Homo sapiens: one gene and its partner. The protein of the gene in region 1 interacts with the protein of each later gene in a biochemical or structural test. Each region holds a gene or a part of one and is shown in the gene's direction. Other genes may lie near its edges.

Region 1 (3,820 bases):
TTAACTGTCACAAATTGGAGTGTGCAAAAGCTAAAATTTTGTTTATTTCCTGTAGCTTATCTTGCTTTCAAGAGACTATTCCACCAGCCTCTAGTGGTTTACAGCAGTCTCTTTATAGAAAATATTCAGTCAATTCAAAAAGCCTTTGTCCAAAAGAGCAACTGGCTACCAAGTTTTAATGCCAGCACCTGCTGTTGAAGTTCACGCTGGTTCCCCTTACTACTAAGCCCTCGAGAAGTCTTTTCACCTGTGGCCTCCTTGATGAAGCCACAGCCCTATTCTGATTCACAAGTTCTTTCCGCCAAGCCACCCGAGGAGCCTGGAACTCCAGCTCCTTTCTTCACACCACATAGAGCCTGTGAATCTATCTTCAGCACATGCCATAGCCGTTGCTGCTCCGCTGTTGGACATGGTGCCAGGGGCAAATGTGGAGTTTCTTTTCAGGGCTGGCTATTTTCAGGACTGTGCTCTCGAAACAAAAAGAAAAACTTGATGTAATGGAGGGTTCCTAAGAAAGCAAATGATCTTTTGCTTGATTTCTTCTGCCCATTTTCCCAGGTACTCCCACCACGAAGGGAAATGCAAGGCCATTTGTGTGTCTTTCTCTCCTCTTCCTCTCAGGCCTCTTGGGGCTGTGCACTCACCACTTCCCCTTCCTGTCTGTGAGGGTCTCTACCTATATCATATTCTACATGTTCTCTACCCTGTAGCTTTTAGTAAAACACTATCTGCAGACCAGTAAGATTTTCACAACATATGCAAAGAGAAGTTTCTTCTGTTTAGAAATTCTCCCACTCAATAAAGCCTGATTTTCAATACAATGTCTTTCTAGAGACATAAGAAAGCCAGCTTTGAGTCTCAATGCTAAGCAATAATTTTCCTTGTTCTAGACCAGTATTCTCAAACTTGAGTGTACATCAGAATCACCTGGAAGATTTCTGAAACCAGGGATTGCTTGGCCCCAGCAGCAGTTTCCTATTCAGTAGGTCTGGGGTGGGGTTTGAGAATTTGCATTTCTAACCAAGTTCCCAGGTGATACTGATGCTGCTGACCCAGAGACTTCACTTTAAGAACCACTATTCTAGACACAATCACACTTGTTCTTCAAGCAGTGGATGACCTTGACTTAATGAACTGGGGAGATGTAGGAAATTTTATTTAAGAAAATTAAGAAATACAATGGCTGAATGTTTTCAAAAAGTTTAACTTTATCATAAATGATACTTAGGTATTGTTACCCTTTAGAGCAAGGAATCTTCCCCAAACATAAGAAAAGAGATAATGAATGGGAATCAGAAAGCTCTGATTCTATAATCAAGTACTCAACTCAAATTATAGAGCATATAAATTTTGTAAGATAAAATCAGAGACCAGTAGAGATATTGCTGCTATGGCCTCCGAAAGACTGAAAAGAATGTTGACAACAACTTTGTAAATAATATTCACAAGTATCCCTTAGCATCTAATTAATAGGGCTTAATACGAATCTAGCTTTCAGAAGTTGTATAAAACCACCTAGGCCAGGCGTGGTGGCTCACGCCTGTAATCCCAGCACTTTGGGAGGCCAAGGCGGCTGGATCACAAGGTCAGGAGATTGAGACCATCCTGGCTAACACAGTGAAGCCCCGTATCTACTAAAAATACAAAAAAAAAATTAGCCGGGCTTGGTGGCAGGCCCTTGTAGTTCCAGCTACTTGGGAGGCTGAGGCAGAAGAATGGGGTGAACCCGGGAGGTGGAGCTTGCAGTGAGCCGAGATTGCGCCACTGCACTCCAGCCTGGGAGACAGCAAGACTCTGTCTCAAAAAAAAACAAAAAAACAAACAAACAAAAAAAAAAACCGTCTAAAGTGTGCAATTACTTTTTAACTTCTAGGGAATTTAAAGTGTTTTTTTTTTTTTAATCATGATTTTTAAATGTCAAGCTCAGGTTGCAGCAGGTCTGTTAGATTGTGGTGACAGTGTGAAGGAGTGGGCGTTACAATCTTTGCATTCATTGGATCAAAACTGCAGAGGTAAACCTCACCTTCTATTCCGCAGTACATAACTATAGTAGGTACTTAGAATGAACTCAGGAAAAGAAAGGCAAAAGACAAAAACATTCAAATCCAACCATGAAGACTCTAAACTTATTTTGTTTTGTACAAATGTAGGAACTGAGGCCTAAATATACAAAGGCCAAATATTACAAAGCTTATTAATAGAGCCAGGTATAATAGTTAAGTCTTCAAACTGTGAGGCCAGGGCTCTATTTTTATAAGTTGGCAATACATAAATAGATATAATCAGGAAAAAAAGTAAAGTGAATAGTGTGTATTGCTTTTTTAGTGAGTGATGAATTTATATAATTCAAATCTTTTTGTTGTTGTTACATTTATCCCACTTACAACTGAAAACATTTATTTTCAGGAGCAACAAAACTCTCCCTGTTTTGTTTTGTTTTGTTTTTCAGATTAAATGCCCTTATTCTTGTCATCAGAGCAGCATCAGACTCAACCTGTGATATTGTAGGAGATAATTGCCCTTATTAGTCTATAATTTTTTAAGTGTCTTTTTTATGCTGCTAAGGGCCTGTTATTATATGAATAGTTTACAAATCAAAGCACATTGCCATCTCCACACAAAAGGATGGGTTGTAATTTTGGACGCAATTAAAGAAGGCCGTGAACCTTTCTGTAATAATAACTTTTAAAAATTAAAATAGAAATCAAACCGTTTGGCCCCATGCTGGGCTGTGTACTTTATTAATATAAATGGATACTCTATGGGAGTTATTTTAAAAGGACAGGTGAGAAATAAAAGACCTCTTTTTCATGCTGCATACTTTTGCAAACTAACTCTAAACTCATAACTGCCTGCTTGGATACTTGTAAATATCTGTGTAAGTTTCAGCTACAAGGATAATCTTGGTATTTAAGAGATGCTGAATCCGTGGAAATTATCAGCTTCCTTTTTTTTTTTTTTTTTTTGAGACGGAGTCTCGCTCTGTTCCCCAAACTGGAGTGCAGTGGCATGATCTCGGCTCACTGCAAGCTCCGCCTCCCAGGTTCATGCCATTCTCCTGCCTCAGCCTCCTGAGTAGCTGGGACTACAGGCGCCGGCTAATTCTTAGTATTTTTAGTAGAGACAGGGTTTCACCGTGTTAGCCAGGATGGTCTCGATCTCCTGATCTCATGATCTGCCCGCCTCGGCCTCCCAAAGTGCTGGGATTACAGGCATGAGCCACCACGACCGGCCTATCAGCTTCCTTTGACTGGAGACATTGCTTCTCCAAAAATGTGCTGAACCTGTATATTTCCCAGTTTCTCAATGGGGCATTTGATGGTTCCTAGATTATAACCCTGGCATTTAAAGCTACGGTAATAGTACCACCCAAATAAAGCCAGGCTCTGCTTGGTACTGTGGCTTTGCCACATTCTAGCTATATGATTTTGGACACATTGCATAACCTCAGTGCCCCATCCATAAAGTGAAGATAGTAGTGCCCTTCCCATAGGGCTGTTGTGAGGATTAAATAAGTTAATACAAATCACATACTTATGATACGGTACTTAGTAAACACTCAATAAACAGCTGAAACTTGTTATTCTATCTTTTGTTCTTGCGTGGCTTTTTTCAATACAACTTTCAGCTGCATGGTCCACCTTATTCCTTAGCACTTAAAGTTTTTGTCTTTGTCCGTTTTAAATCACTTTAGATATAAAGTACCCTTCATGCAAGCACTCATTAACCCCAAAACAAAATAAAACAAAACTCAGGATGTGTTGCCTCCATAATCTGAAAAGTCTAATATTCCAAATTATCAGATTGCTAAATAATTCTG
Region 2 (3,009 bases), on another chromosome or scaffold:
CAAGGGCCCTGGGGGGAGGCCTCTGGGCTGGTGGTAGGAAGCCCCCGGGACAGGGTTGGGGGCTGCACCCACATGCGTGCCCTTCCCTCCCAGGCCAGCCTGAGGACAGAGTCCTTTTCAGTCCCTTGGGTCTTCTCGGCCACCCCTGCCTGGCCCTCCCCATGCTGCCTCTGCCCAGGGCCCCCAGCTGGGCCTGCTTGGGCAGGGATCTGACCTCTGCTTGGCCGGCTGTCATGCACAGCCACACTCTGCCCTGGGGAACAGCTCTGCCAGCGTCGGTGGCTCTGAATGAGCACACTGTGGTTTTAGAGGAAAAGCCCCTCAACCTGCTCAGAAGCAGACTCCCGCCTGCTTCTCTGTAGAAGGACAGAATGCCCTCCTCCCAGTCCCCAGCAGTCCCTGTCCCCAGACCAAGAAGCTGGTGTCCTGCCTGGGCCTGCCTCCTCTGGCCCTCCGGCCTGCCCACACTCACCCCTTCTCCCTCCCCAGGACCATGTACTGGTCAGACTGGGGCAACCACCCCAAGATTGAGACGGCAGCGATGGATGGGACGCTTCGGGAGACACTGGTGCAGGACAACATTCAGTGGCCCACAGGTTTGTGGGGCAGGGTGCAGGAGGGACGGGCATGGAGGGGGCCCGGCTCGCAGAGCCCAGCTGCTGCTGAAGTCACACAAAAGCAAGGGATGGGATGGGGCTTGGACTGGGGCAGGGCAGATTGGCCGTGGAGGCTTTTCCCGAAAGAGGTGACTGTGAGTGGCGTATGAACAGGGTGGAGCTGTCCCGGGCATGGAGGCAGTTCTTTCCACCCCGAGCCTGGGTTGGGGAGGCCAAGCTCTCACAGTGCTCTCTCTCTCCCCAGGCCTGGCCGTGGATTATCACAATGAGCGGCTGTACTGGGCAGACGCCAAGCTTTCAGTCATCGGCAGCATCCGGCTCAATGGCACGGACCCCATTGTGGCTGCTGACAGCAAACGAGGTCAGAGCCCGGCATAAGTCGCAGTCCCCAGCCCTGTCCCCAGCCTTGCCATCCTCCCTACTGAGCCAAAGGCCTCACTTCAATGCCTCCCATCCTTTGTCACTGACCCCCAGCAATGCTGCAGCGCCTTCCAGGCCTCTCCAGCTGGCCTCCCCCTGAACCAGCCCTGCAGGCCTGAGACCCACCCTGACCCTCTGGCCTACTTGTCCATTCATTGGTTGGGTTGCACGGAGGCAGCATAGGTACATTAGGAACGTAGCAAATTGGGGGAGAAGGAATAGAAGTCAGTCATGACTGACCCCAGAAGTCTGGGGGTGATGGGACCTTTTGCCAGTAGTGGCCACAGGAGGAGGAACCGGTGTGGGGAGAGAGAATTTGGTCTGGATGTGTTGAGTTTGAGGTGTCTGGGAACCACAGGTGCCAGTGTCGTGGACAGCATGGCCAGGGCCTGAGTGCCCCTCAGGTCCCCTCTGACTCCACCTCCTCCCCCAGGCCTAAGTCACCCCTTCAGCATCGACGTCTTTGAGGATTACATCTATGGTGTCACCTACATCAATAATCGTGTCTTCAAGATCCATAAGTTTGGCCACAGCCCCTTGGTCAACCTGACAGGGGGCCTGAGCCACGCCTCTGACGTGGTCCTTTACCATCAGCACAAGCAGCCCGAAGGTGGGGGCAGAGGGGAGCCTGGGCTGGGGAAGGGAGGCCTGTGGGCATTGAGTCTCCAAGCTGTGGCCCTGGGACCTGGTGGAGAGGGGGTCACCCTGGGCTCACAGGGCTCAGAGAAGGGTCCTGCTCAGCATCCTCCCCACCCCACCCATACCTGCAGTGACCAACCCATGTGACCGCAAGAAATGCGAGTGGCTCTGCCTGCTGAGCCCCAGTGGGCCTGTCTGCACCTGTCCCAATGGGAAGCGGCTGGACAACGGCACATGCGTGCCTGTGCCCTCTCCAACGCCCCCCCCAGATGGTATGCTTATGCCCTCCCAGTCCCAGCCATGCCTCAGGACCATCTCCTTCCTGTGGCTCCTGACTTCCCCTGACCTTGTTGCCTGTCCCTCTCCTCCTATTCCCCTGGCTCTGCCCCTTGACGGGCCCTTCCTGCAGCTCCCCGGCCTGGAACCTGTAACCTGCAGTGCTTCAACGGTGGCAGCTGTTTCCTCAATGCACGGAGGCAGCCCAAGTGCCGCTGCCAACCCCGCTACACGGGTGACAAGTGTGAACTGGACCAGTGCTGGGAGCACTGTCGCAATGGGGGCACCTGTGCTGCCTCCCCCTCTGGTATGCCCCCTCATCCCGCCACGCCTGCTCCTTGCCCCTGGGCCCCAGCCCCGCCACCCACCACCCCACCTCAGGCAAATGCCCAGCCCCTGCCTCGCCTCCAGCCTCCTTTCCACAACCCAGCATCCAGTCACTCCAGTCTCTGCTTCTCGCCCAGGTCCCCCCAGCCCATTCCTCTGCTATAGGGCCAGGTGGTCTCGAGGGCCACAGTCGCGCTCACACATCCTCTCCCACCAGGCATGCCCACGTGCCGGTGCCCCACGGGCTTCACGGGCCCCAAATGCACCCAGCAGGTGTGTGCGGGCTACTGTGCCAACAACAGCACCTGCACTGTCAACCAGGGCAACCAGCCCCAGTGCCGATGCCTACCCGGCTTCCTGGGCGACCGCTGCCAGTACCGTGAGTGAGCCATCCCTGGGCCCCAGGGCATGCGGGAGGGTGACGGGGGACCCCAGAGCATGGGGTGATGTTCAACCTGTGCCTGGGACCCACAGGGGCAAGTTCAGGAAAGAAGGCCTTATGCAGCTGAGCCAGGCCCAAGCTGCTGGCGCTTCCCCACAAAGGTGCTGGCACACTTCCCCTGAGGCAGTGCACCCCCTGCACCAAGATTATGCAAACAGAAAAGCTCTGTTCAACCTATGGAGAGCCCTCATGAGGGTGGGGCTTGAGGCACTTCTCTCCCTCCCCAACCACAGGGCAGTGCTCTGGCTACTGTGAGAACTTTGGCACATGCCAGATGGCTGCTGATGG

What was found.
Region 2: the proteins of CALCR (region 1) and LRP1 form a complex in vitro, tested with the Homo sapiens proteins (one study listed by BioGRID).

What each region holds. Positions count from the first base shown.
Region 1 is NC_000007.14:93,427,933-93,431,752, reverse strand, and holds part of CALCR (calcitonin receptor isoform 2 precursor), read left to right. Parts: intron 1-3,820. UniProt on the Homo sapiens protein: G protein-coupled receptor activated by ligand peptides amylin (IAPP), calcitonin (CT/CALCA) and calcitonin gene-related peptide type 1 (CGRP1/CALCA).
Region 2 is NC_000012.12:57,208,222-57,211,230, forward strand, and holds part of LRP1 (prolow-density lipoprotein receptor-related protein 1 preproprotein), read left to right. Parts: intron 1-489; coding exon 490-596; intron 597-861; coding exon 862-978; intron 979-1,470; coding exon 1,471-1,647; intron 1,648-1,807; coding exon 1,808-1,948; intron 1,949-2,085; coding exon 2,086-2,259; intron 2,260-2,496; coding exon 2,497-2,658; intron 2,659-2,954; coding exon 2,955-3,009. UniProt on the Homo sapiens protein: Endocytic receptor involved in endocytosis and in phagocytosis of apoptotic cells. Required for early embryonic development. Involved in cellular lipid homeostasis.